Homo sapiens: one gene and its partners. The protein of the gene in region 2 interacts with the protein of the main gene of each other region in a pairwise test. Each region holds a gene or a part of one and is shown on either strand. Other genes may lie near its edges. The genes, in order: PEX13, PEX1 and GALNT6.

Region 1 (3,648 bases), on a different chromosome or scaffold from region 2:
ATAATAACCATGTTTCTTTTTGGTAATACAGGTCTATTTGGAAGTTACTTAGAAGAATGAAATATTTTGGGGGAAGGATATTTCACTTAATTGGAAATCAATTATAAATATTCACTTGCTAATTCTAATTTGTAATAAAATTTGAGGTACTGCATTTTTGAAAATGCCTTTTCACACAGATAGGTAATGTCAAATCCTAATATGAGTCTATGAGTATGTGGTTTTAATTGAGCATATTTATTAGTTGGGAGAGTAATAGGCCAGAATATAATTCTGTTAAATTCTTCTCTTGATATTTGCCTTTTACCATGTTATTACATTGCAGATTAATCACTTCCAAATGAAGATTAAGTGGAAGTTCCTCAATTGCATAGTTAAATGGATTTTGAAATATGGAAATTTCCTTTGTGCTTGCATGGAGGTCCAAAAAATGCTCTGGCATTGTATTAATAGCTTAAGCTTGGAAAATGTATCTGCTGCCAACTTGCGTGGGAATGGAGATACTGCTTGTGTTAACTTCTGACAGTCTGAGAGGTCTATAAAGCAGTGTGACATTACTTGTGAGTCAAACTGTATTAGGTGTTGTCAAAACTTTACTCCAGCATAAGTTTTGCATATAAGCACTGTTCTGCTTTGTGGTTTCCGTTTGAATTACTTAAGAATATAGGTCAGGCGTGGTGGTTCACACCTGTAATCTCAGCACTTTGGGAGGCCGAGGCGGGTGGATCTCCTGAGGTCGGGAGTTTGAGACCAGCCTGACCAACATGGAGAAACTCCATTACTACTAAAAATACAAAATTAGCCGGGCATGGTGGCGCATGCCTATAATCCCAGTACTTTGAGAGGCTGAGACAGGGGAAATTGCATGAGTCCAGCAGTTCAAGACCAACCTGGGCAACATAGGGAAACCTTGTTTCTACAAAAAAATAAACAAAATTAGGCAGATGTGGTGGCACGCGCCTATAGTCTCAGCTTGAATCGCTTGAACCTGGGAGGCAGAGGTTGCAGTGAGCCGAGACTGCACTACGCACTCCAGCCTGGGCAACTGAGTGAGGCCCTGTCTCAAAAAGAAAACAACAACAAAGAATATAACTAAGTCTGGGCTGGACATGGTGGTTCATGCCTGTAATCTCACTCAGCACTTTGGGACGCTAAGGCAGGATTGCTTGAGGCCAGGAGTTCAAGACCAGCCTGAGCAACACAGTGGAATCTCGTCTCCACAATAAATAAATAAATTGGCCAGGTGTGGTGGTGTGTACTTCTAGTACTAGCTACTTGGGAAGCTGAGGTGGGAGAATCATGTGAGCCCAAGAGTGTGAGGTTGCAGTGAGCTATGATCACGCTACTGCACTCCAGCCTGGCTGACAAAGCAAGACCCTGTCTCCAAAAAGAACTCAGAATTTAACTAAGTCTGCAGTAAAAGGTGATTTCCAAAGCTGAATGGGTTTAATAACAATAGCTGAAAAGGAGTTCTGTTCAGAAAAATTTCATTCTTGGCCTCAATCTCAAAAAAAATAAAATAAAACTTAAACCTTGTTCTGCCATTGAATTGCCATGCGGTAGGGCAAGTCGGGATCTTCAGCTTCTGTATCTGACAAAAATTCACAAAACTGACAATGATTATGTCACAAGAGTGAATAAACTTTACCTTGACACTACTAGTTCAATAACACATGATAAATTCAAATATTTTCTGCAATGTGGCTGCTGATAATACAATGAATAACCATAAACAAAAAAACTGTATTTTCAAAACCTTTGTAACTTTTGTCCAACTAGGCCTTTTCCTGCTCCACCTAGAATTTTCACCATTATCAGGTGCAACACATCTTAGCAGATTCAGGTTGTACGGAATCAGTGTTTTCACCTTCTTTGAAAATGTTCTTGTCTGTAGTTGAACCATGACTATTCATAGAGGCTAATTCTTCAGTCATTTCCAATTCACCATTGATTTCTCAAATAAACAACTAAGCAGTACTGTCTTTTTTTTGAAAATTTGTTTTTTTTTTTTTTTTTTTTAGTAGAGACAGGGTTTCACCACGTTAGCCAGGATGGTCTCCATCTCCTGACCTCATGATCCGCCCGCCTCGGCCTACCAAAGTGCCAGGATTACAGGCATGAGCCACCGAACCCAGCCTGTCTTTGTTTTATGCTACTTTAACAGAATACTACAGACTGGGTAATTTGTAAACAATGGAAGTTTATTTGCTCACAGTTCTGGGGGCTAGGAAATCCGAGATCAAGGGGCATTTAGTAAGGGCCTTCTTGTTGTGTCATAACATGGCAGGAGGCATCACATGGCAAAAGAGTGCATGCGAGAGAGTAAGAGGGCCAAACTAGCTTGTATAACAAACTCACTCTCGAGATAATGAACTCACTCCCATGATGACAACATTTAGCCAACAGATTTAGCAAGTATTAATATCCATTGGGTCATGATGAGCCAAGGAAAAACATTCAAATCATTTGTCTTATTTTAAGTTGGCCATGTTGTTCAAAATGCCATCAACTCTTCAAGGAACTGTTCTCACTGAGAAGCTAATAATCTTAAACAAGTTTACTTTCTCTGGACATATTTTTTTTGGCTGTTGCAATGACCATGAGTAAACAGGTTTCCTTGCTTGGGTAACATATGAACCTCTCAGGAACTTATTTTGGTTGCAGCCTCATTTTATTTTATTTTTATTTTGATGCGGAAATTCTGCTGTGATGAGAATTCCATTTTAAATTTTCTAATTTTTTTGACTGTTGATTTTCTGTGATGAGTGCTCAATCTGGTAATGCTGATATGTAGTATAGCCATTTAACATAGCTATAGTGTCATTGTATAATAAATACAGTTTTTTTTACTATCTAATTCAATAACGAAATAATTCATACTATACTGTGCCTTGAAAATATGACACTCAAAGTACACTTTTTTCTTGTGTGTCATATATGAATTCATAATTTCAAAAAAAACCCACTGTAGTATAACAATGTATATATTACTCATCATGCTATCAAGTTATAACTAAGTTACTGAAATTTGTAGTGGGCAGAGCAAAAGTGAAGCCATCGGAATTTCACATATAGTCTCTGTGCAAACTATTCAATTCCACTGTTACAGTGGAAAAGCAGCCATAACAATATGTATGGAAATAAGTGTGGCTGTGCTCCAATACAACTTTATTAATGAAATTTGAATTCTATATAATTTTCACATCACAGATTATTTCAATTTTTAAAACATTCTTTTAATTTCCCAGCAACTGAAAAGTATAAAAACCATTTTTAGCTTGTGAGCTGTACAAAAATAGGAGCAGGCCAGATTTGGCCCACAAGCCACGGTTTGCCAACCCCTGCTCTAAGAGCTAAAGTAATAGGACCTCAATTTTGCTTCTCCTCAAAAATCTCTTTGTATCATTACCGATTTCCTCTCCTTTTGACTCAGATAAAAAACCGTCCTTCCTTTTTACCTGCCAGGTTCCGTAAGATCACACCCTCTCTTACTTCCTATAGTAGCTTCTTCATCATTTAACTCCTATCTTTCCCTTATTTATAACTGCTCCTTCTCTACTGACTCCTTTCTTTTAGCCTAAAAACATTCTCAGATCTCCTCACTTCTGAAAAGACAAAGCAAAACAAAAAACTGACAATCTCCCACAA
Region 2 (4,144 bases):
CATCAAAGAACTGAGAAACAAAGTGCAATGCAGGGTGACGTGTCTCAGTTTAATACTAGTGATCCACTAAGTCTTTGTTTCTATCCCCTGGGATTCTGAGCTTTGCTGGTTTAGAACCTTGAACCTCCTGGGAGCAAGTGATCCTCCTACCTCAGCCTCCCAAGTAGCTGGGACTAGAGGCATACCATCATGCATGGCTAATTTTTTTTTTAAGAGATGGGGTCTCACTATGTTGCCCAGGCTTACTTGTATATTTTAATTAATGTTCTCCTTTTTGCTGTTCCCTTACCCCATTACTATATAGTTAAGATATTAGATACGCAGATTGTATTGATGGTGGCTAACTTTATAATTTAGTTCATATATGAGAGAATATCAAGATAAAATCATAACTGGAACTAGGAGAGGAATGGATGTCATTTAAATATCTTGGGCTTGGAGCTGGATGTAGTATAGTAGAGGGATGTGATTTCATTTCTGGTTGAGCGGATAATTAAATGTATTTGAATTATGTGTAAATTTCACATTTTTTGATATACAAAGAACAGATAATTGTATCAGTAGGTAATAGGATATTTTATTTCAAAACAGTGAAGAAGCTGCTAAGCATAAAATTTGTCAAATGCTACAAAGGTGATGAATATACAACTGGGAATTCCAAGAAATTTAAATTTAATTACATTCTTTATTATCTTTTCCTCAAAAGAAATAAATTAGTTCCACCATTTGGCTAATATTATTTCATTAAAGACTGAATTTAGATTTTAGGAAATAAAATATGGAATCTGTTATAATGTCCCAATTTATACTACAGTATTAATCTCAATCCTGATCATTACATAATTATAGCATTTACCAATCTGTGATTTTATAAATTAACCAAATTTGTTAAATTAAGAAGAAATTCATAGACACCATTTTTTTCCTGTTACAACATATGGAAAAGCCATCAAAAAACTTAACAGAACCAAATCAAAAAGAAGTATATTTTATGCTAAAGTTACTTTCTGTCCAGGTCGAAACATTGTTCCACTTTGATTTTTTCTCCTCTTTGGATTTTGAAAGCTTTCATATCTGAAAAAAGAAAGAGATAATTTAATATGTATAAATACTACCATTACAAAACAAAAGATAATGGATTGTTGGCAAACACAATTATATTTTAAGAAATGAACGGGAAATAACAAACTAGAAAAAAAAATTCCAGTCACAGAAATTAAAAAGAATTCTTACAAATAAAGTTGCACTCCAATAGAAAACGGAGCAAAGGGGATGAAGAGACAAGTTAGAAAAGATAAAATACAAATGACAATGAATAATATGAAAAATTATAACTTCTACACTTTAATCAAAGAAATGTAAATTATTGATATCATTTTTCTAAAATCAAAAGGGCCAAGTTTAGAAAAATACTGCAACACACAATGTTAGTGATGGTGCAGTATATCTGGCAGGCAATTTGGCAATACATTTCAAAAGCCTTAAAAAATGTGAGCTCCCTGTTATACAATTCCACCTCTATCCTAGTGAAACAATTAGATATGTGCATATATTCAGCTGCAAGAATGTTCATTACCACATTGCCTGGGAGCAATTTAAATGTCTAAAAATTGGATATTGTGGCATAGCTACACTATAAAATGACATTTAAAAACAATAAAGTAGTTAACATTTAAAATGTAAAACAATTTTCAGGATGTATGTGGATAAAGGGGGACTGCTATATAGCAATATGTACAGACTGTTCTTACCATAATAGGAAAACATATATAAGCATATAAACAAATATGCTTTGGGAGGTGGTGGGCTTAACAGAAATTTGTTTCCTTATTTTTCCTTACCTCTGTTTTCTGATTCTTCTTTAATAAATACATAGCACTAACGTATGTACACATACATACATACTTCAAAGTACTGCAAAATTAGATAACAAAAGGTAGCAGCTTCTAAAGACCAGGAATAAACATCTCTTAAATTGAATCACACTGAATCATTGACCTAGAATGGTTCCCAGTCCATGGGTCTCAGATGCATAGGTGGCCATAAACTCAATTGCAAGGATCCTTTAAATCCAATGTATAACAAATGTGGTCCACAAATGAATAAATCTGAATGTATTTAAATGTTCTTGAGGTCAATAAAATATTAATATAAATTATTTTGAAGGCAAAACAGGTATTTTTATAACAAAATTTTATAAACTATACATTAGAATCACTTTCAACTTTTAATTTTCCTTCTTATTTCTTCGAAGTTACTAAATTTTTTTTTTTTTTTTTTGAGACACAGTCTCGCTCTGTGGCCCAGGCTGGATGGAGTGCAGTGGTGCAATCTCGGCTCACTGCAACCTCCACCTCCTGGGTTCAAGCAATTCTCCTGTCTCAGCCTCCCAAGTAGCTGGGACTACAGGCACATGCCACCACACCTGGCTAATTTTTGTATTTTTAGTAGAGATGGGGTTTCCCCGTGTTGGTTAGGCTTGCCTCGAACTCCTGACCTCAGGTGATCCACCTGCCTTGGCCTCCCAAAGAGCTGGGATTACAGGCATGAGCCACAGCACCCAGCCCAAAGTTACTAAAATTAAATGAGTCCATTATGAATAATTCAAATATAATCAAATGAACTGGTTAATGAAAACTCAATTTTGACTTCTGTACTTCTGACATTTTGGGGTTTTTTAATGCATAGCTACGACACATATTTTTTGAATTAGCTTTTAAATATTCAAAATATTTTTATTTTAAACACGAACTTTAAAGGTTTAAGTGTAATACTATGTCACTTGTAATAGTAGCTGTACTTCCAAAACAGAATCTGTTACTTACAGCTCAGCAAAATTCTTCCAGTCATCTTCACTAATGGATGGTCTTGTGTGACCAAGTGCAGTCATTAAATGTGACTGACTAATAGCCAGTCTGGTTTTGATTGGTCCTGGTTGGTTCATGGATTCGTCCTCCTTAAGTAAAAAAAGAAATTGACGAAGAGTTAAATTAAGGATGTAAAAAAAAATGTGGTAGTCCAGTTGTTACTTCTTATTGTCAGTTTTTTCAAGAGACCATACGTTCTCTTCCTTATAAGATAATGAAACATTGAAAGCAAGGAAGCACATAACCATGACTGAGTTAATGTGTTCTGGTCCCTTGTTTATAAATATAGCTCGTTTATAAGTCAAAGAAATATATATCAAAAGGGTGAAACAATTTTTAAGAAGTTTTAACAATTATAATGAGGGGGAAAAAGCCATACTCCACTTTGGCTCCGGTATCTGCCTTTGATAATACTGATATCTGCCCTCAGTTGATCTCTTTGTTCTTGTGTAAGTTCTTGGCAACCCTCTTGTGAAGCTGTCCTTAACACTGGAGGCTGTGAAAACAACTGGTCTTTCCCAGGAACTCCAGGCAAATCCTGAGTCATGGAGCTTGGTGCAGAGAGACATTGTGAGCTCTGCATGGTAAATTGTAGTAATGAAAGATGGAAGGAAGAGGGGGAGAGAAAAAACTATGTGTTTACCAAATATAAAAATTAAACATTTTAAGCAATAAAACATTAACATAGATAAGTATACATGTTAATTAACTGAAATTAAGCAAGCTGAAAAGTTGTTCATCTTTTATAAAGGTTCACTGATACCTGTGTTATAGAACCACCATCAAGTGAAAATTGCCATAACACAGGGTAGGTTTTTTTAACTTTGTTGCTTAAATCCAACACACTAATGCCCAAGGACAGGTTTCTTCATTTTCAGAAAGTAAAGTTATACTAAGTTTCTGGGACATTTCTAAATAGAATAAATTAAAAACAGAATTAAAGACTAAAATTAAACCACCACCTTACTGTTCTTGGGAATAAAAATGAATTGCTTTTATATTTTTAAAGTCTGAGTTAGGCTAGGCATAGTGGCTCACACCTGTAATCCTAGCACTTTGGGAGGTCAAGGCACGCAGATAGCTTGAGCCCAGGAGTTTGAGACCAGCCTGGGCAATATGGTGAAACCTCGTCTCTACAAAACATACAAAAATTAGCTGGGCATGGTGGCATGTGCCTGTAGTCCCAGCTACTCAGGAGGCTGAGGTGGAAGAATCACCTAAGCCCAGGAGGTCAAGGCTGCAGTGAGCCATAATTGTGCCACTGCACTCTAGTCTGG
Region 3 (4,420 bases), on a different chromosome or scaffold from region 2:
AAAGAGGAAGAAAACAGAAAGAAAGAAAGACAAATTTATTTAAATATCAAAACAAAAGAGAAACTGAACTAGTGGTAGAAGTTTCTACCATAGAAAGTTTTCAAATTATTGGCTATTTGGAGTCATGCGCGCTCCTTCTCTGTTGCTAAGGCCCCAAAAGATTGCAGCACACGAGGCAGCGCCGGAGAGGACCACTGAGCAGCACGGGCCCTGGCGGGGTAATTCCGAACACCGGCTTAGGAGGCGGGTTTACCAGGATTCTCATTCCAGCCCTGCCACTAATTGTTCAGGGTTCTCAAGGTCGAGCATGCACAAAATCACCCGGAGGGCTTTTAAAACACAAGTCGCCGGGCCCAACCCGAGTTTCGGAATATTTAGGTCTGCGGTGGGGCCCATTTCTTTTCTTTTCTTTTCTTTTTTTCTTTTTTTTTTTTTTTGATACGGAATCTCGCTCTGTCGCCAGGCTGGAGTGCAGTGGCGTGATCTCGGCTCACTGCAACCTCCCCCTCCCGAGTTCAAGCGATTCTCCGGCCTCAGCCTCCCGAGTAGCTGGGATTACAGACGCCCGCCACTACGCCCAGCTAATTTCTTGTATTTTTAGTAGAGACGGGGTTTCACCATGTTGGCCAGGCTGGTCTCGAATTCCTAACCTTGTGATCCGCCCGCCTCGGCCTCCCAAAGTACTGGGATTACAGGCATGAACCACCGCGCCCGGCCAAAATTTCTAATAAGTTCTCAGGTGATTCTGACTGGCGCTGCTGGTGGGGGATCCCACTTTGAGAAACACCCTCTGCTGTGTGAGCAGCTGCCTCCCCGGTACATTCGGAATAATCATAGTAGGTTTAAAGTTTGCTGGGGCTGGGATTCACCTGATACCTGGCACTTGGAGCCCTTGACACAGTTCATGGCACACGGAATACGAGCTCTTGTTGGATGGAGCACAAATGAGAAGCAAACCTGGGGCAGGACCCCGGGGCCCATGGCCGCCCCGCCGCGTTTCCCCCTCCGGGGCAGGCCTCCGGGCTCCGAGCGCTCCAGGCTGGCGCGCAGCACATTCCGGTTCCATGCACCCGCCGCCCGCGGCTCTGCTAATGCCTGTCCTCTTTGGGGTGACTAGGACCCTCCAATCTTTTTCCGCGCTGAAAGCCTGGCCGCAAAGACCGCACCCCCGGGGCGGGCTGAGACGCAGAGAAGCCGGGGCGCCCCTCTGCCGGTCCGCCGGGAGTTCCCGGGCCCGCAGCAGGCTGAGGACACGGCGGGACCCGCTGCACCTGGCCAGGGAGGGGCGGGGCGGGCGCGTTAGTGCAGCTGGGGGAGGTCCCGCCCCGGTCCCACCCTCCCGGCCGTCCGGTGGGGAAACCCGGGAGCCACCCCGCGGCGCGGCTGCGGCTTTGCCTCGGCGCGACAGGTAAGCGGCAGAAGGAGCCCGCGACCCTCTCCCCGGGAGGGCCCCCCTGAGCTCCCCGACTGCTCGGACTTCCCTTCGGCGGATCTCGCTTCTGCCGAGTCCTCGCTCTCACCTCCTCCTCCGCCAGCCTTCGCCTCTTCCTCTTCCTCCTCACTACCCCCGACAGTAAAATGAAGGGGCTGGGCCAGGCTGGTCCCTCCTGCCTTCGCTCTCTGCTGGTCGCGGTGGCCTGTAGCTCCTCCCTCGGTAGGACCCCCCTCCACCTTGGCGCTTACGAGATGAATGAGGAGCCCAGACCTCTGGAACTTGGAGGGGTGAGAGGGGGACAAGCCAGAGCCAGGGCTCCACACCCTCTTCCCCTCACCCACCCATGCCCTGCATTCCTTCTGTGCCCCGTCTCCCCAGATCGGGCCACCCCATGTGCTCTGGTACGGCAACTCTTGCAGAGAGGTTTCCTCCTGCCCTGCCACGTTGCGCCTGAGCAGAAGGGGACAGCAAGGAGAAGCCTCGCTGGTGGAGGTCGGTCTGAGCCCTGCTTGGTTGAATTCCCTCCAGAGCCTGGGGGCTTTTGGGGGTGGGAAGGGATCTGCCTCCTGCTGTGGGGAAATGGAATCTGCTGGGTGTTCATGACTGTGACTGTCACCGACTTCCCTATTTCCTCAGTTGTTCAGATTCCCAGGCTGACAAAAAGGAGAAACAGCTTTTACTTGCATCCAGGGCCAATCATCGCAGACCCAGACGTCTGCAGAGGGTAGGATGGGGCTCTTCTGTGTATGGGGGTGGAGGGTGGTCAGTTTGCCCACAAAGCTTACAGCAGACCCCTTCTAGCAGCCGACAACCCATTGCAGCACTCTCAGAAAGGATGTTAACTCTGTGCTCTGAGCTCGCCCCCAGGCCCACACACACAATTTACAGGCACTGGGTGAGGTTCATAGTTCTGGACACACCAAAGAGCCTCGAGGACTTTTGCGCCTTCTACCAGAGATGTGTGTGCACCACACAGGCCCTATTCTCCGCTCCAGACAGATGAGCTGTCTCCCTTCCCATCAAAGGAAAGGTTAAGAAGGATGAGACAGGGAAATTCATGTGATGATGAAAACCAGGTCAGGTGAGGGGTTTGAAATATGCTTTGGTTCCGGCCACATGTGGTGGCTCATGCCTGTAATCCCAGCACTTTGGGAGGCTGAGGCTGGTGCATCACCTGAGATCAGGAGTTCGAGACCAGCCTGGCCAACATGGCAAAACCCCATCTCCACAAAAAATACAAAAAGTTAGCCGGGCATGGTGGCAGGCGCCTGTAATTCCAGCTACTTGGGAGGCTGAGGCAGGAGAATTGTTTGAACCTGGGAAGCAGAGGTTGCAGTGAGCTGAGATCGCACCATTGCATTCCAGCCTGGGCAATAAGAGCAAAACTCTGTCTCAAAAAAAAAAAAAAAAAAAAAAAGAAAGAAAGAAAGAAAGAAATATGCTTTGATTCCAATTGCCTAGCAGGAGCCAGTAGCATTGCAGGCATTTCCCTAGCTCCAGTTCCTTAATGGTGCCATGCACTTTAGGAACCCAGAGGTAATCAGAGAAAGTTGCTTCCAGGGGCACCAGGGCAGAGAACAGGACAAGACCCTCAAAAGAAAGAGGGAAGTGTGCAGGAGACTGGGCTGCTCAAGATGACCTCACCTCAGTAATGCTGCCCACAGTCCTACAGTGGGTGGAACAGCTGACTCCTACCTGTAGCAGCATGGAAGAACTCAGGGCAGAGAAGGGGAGGCCCTGATGTGTGTCAGGTGCCCTGTGAGGTCAGAAACATATTTGCCCAAGTTCAGCTGGAAGAAGTGGGGACAGGAAATATGAGCATGAACTTAGTCCATGCAACCATTGCCTCGAACAGACCTCAGGACCAGGAGGGGCAGCTAACCCTAGGGCTGAGGGCCTCTCAGTGCAGGGAGGCAGTGAGTATCATGAAGGCAGGCAGCTGACTCAGCCCTGTCACTAACTTCGATATATAATCTTAGCCAAAACACATAAACACTCCCTGGGTGGGGAGCAAATGAGAAGGTGTATATGAAGTGTTTTGGCAAAGCTCCAAGCACCAGTCAAATGCAAGACAATGTGATGTCATAGTTAAGAGAGTGGGCTTTGGAGATACATAGGCCTGAATGCAAATTCTGCCTCTGCCACATTTCTAGCTGTGTGACCTTGGTCAAGTTACTTGACCTCCCTGTGCTTCAGTTTCCTTCTGTGTAAAACAGAGAAGATAACTGTAACTTGATTTGATATGGTAAGCAGTAATATTTAAAATGGTGATGGTATTCTTCTTAACATTTTCTGGCTCCCACGGATGTGTTCCGACATCTCAGCCCTGGAAGGGATGCTGAAGACCAGGTTGGGTGTGTCCATGCCGTAGCTTGGGTGAACTCAGCTCTTTACACAGTCCTCTGCCCCTTTCTGGGAAAGCCCAAATGTTCATTCTCATTTGATAGGAACGAGAGTGAGGATTTGAATAAGCAGGAGGTTAAGTGCAGGGCAGTGCCTGTCTCTGTGTCGAGCTCAATGTTGTAATTGTGCTGTGTAAAAGGCCTGTGTGGTGAACAAGGGTGAGCTCACTCCAGGGAGGAGAAGGACTGTTAGAAGACTTTTGTGGCACCTGACAGCCCTGTGGGGTCAGCTTATTCTCTCGTACCCTGAACAACTTGGTCCTAAGGCCTAGGTAGAGATTTGAAGGAAGAAAGCAACCCAGTCCTCAACTCTGCACGTAATAGAGAATGAAGAACAGACTAGCAAAATAGCATTGCCATACATCTCAAGGCAGAGAGATGCGACAGGGATTGGAAGGCCAGGTAGATTGGTCAGGAAGAACATTCTGGAGACAGAAGTTTGGGGACCAAGACTCAAGGATTGGGAAGGAGAAGGAAATAGGATCTAGGTGGTCTACCGTCTAGGCCTGTTGGTTCTCCCTTCTCCATGATAGTTAGTGGGGAAATCCCACGTAAGGAAAGCACGGGTAGTAGAGAAACTTGG

Evidence for each region.
Region 1: the proteins of PEX1 (region 2) and PEX13 come close enough for resonance energy transfer, tested with the Homo sapiens proteins (one large-scale study listed by BioGRID).
Region 3: the proteins of PEX1 (region 2) and GALNT6 interact in binary tests that used the Homo sapiens proteins (3 or more experiments, as listed by UniProt).

What each region holds. Positions count from the first base shown.
Region 1 is NC_000002.12:61,041,704-61,045,351, reverse strand, and holds part of PEX13 (peroxisome biogenesis factor 13), read right to left. Parts: intron 1-3,648. UniProt on the Homo sapiens protein: Component of the PEX13-PEX14 docking complex, a translocon channel that specifically mediates the import of peroxisomal cargo proteins bound to PEX5 receptor.
Region 2 is NC_000007.14:92,486,468-92,490,611, forward strand, and holds the end of PEX1 (peroxisomal ATPase PEX1), read right to left. Parts: intron 3,445-4,144; coding exon 3,247-3,444; intron 2,957-3,246; coding exon 2,826-2,956; intron 1,075-2,825; coding exon 990-1,074; 3' UTR 558-989; downstream 1-557. UniProt on the Homo sapiens protein: Component of the PEX1-PEX6 AAA ATPase complex, a protein dislocase complex that mediates the ATP-dependent extraction of the PEX5 receptor from peroxisomal membranes, an essential step for PEX5 recycling.
Region 3 is NC_000012.12:51,388,589-51,393,008, reverse strand, and holds the start of GALNT6 (polypeptide N-acetylgalactosaminyltransferase 6), read left to right. Parts: upstream 1-1,602; 5' UTR 1,603-1,722; intron 1,723-1,813; exon of another isoform or gene 1,814-1,927; intron 1,928-2,071; 5' UTR 2,072-2,159; intron 2,160-4,420. UniProt on the Homo sapiens protein: Catalyzes the initial reaction in O-linked oligosaccharide biosynthesis, the transfer of an N-acetyl-D-galactosamine residue to a serine or threonine residue on the protein receptor. May participate in synthesis of oncofetal fibronectin.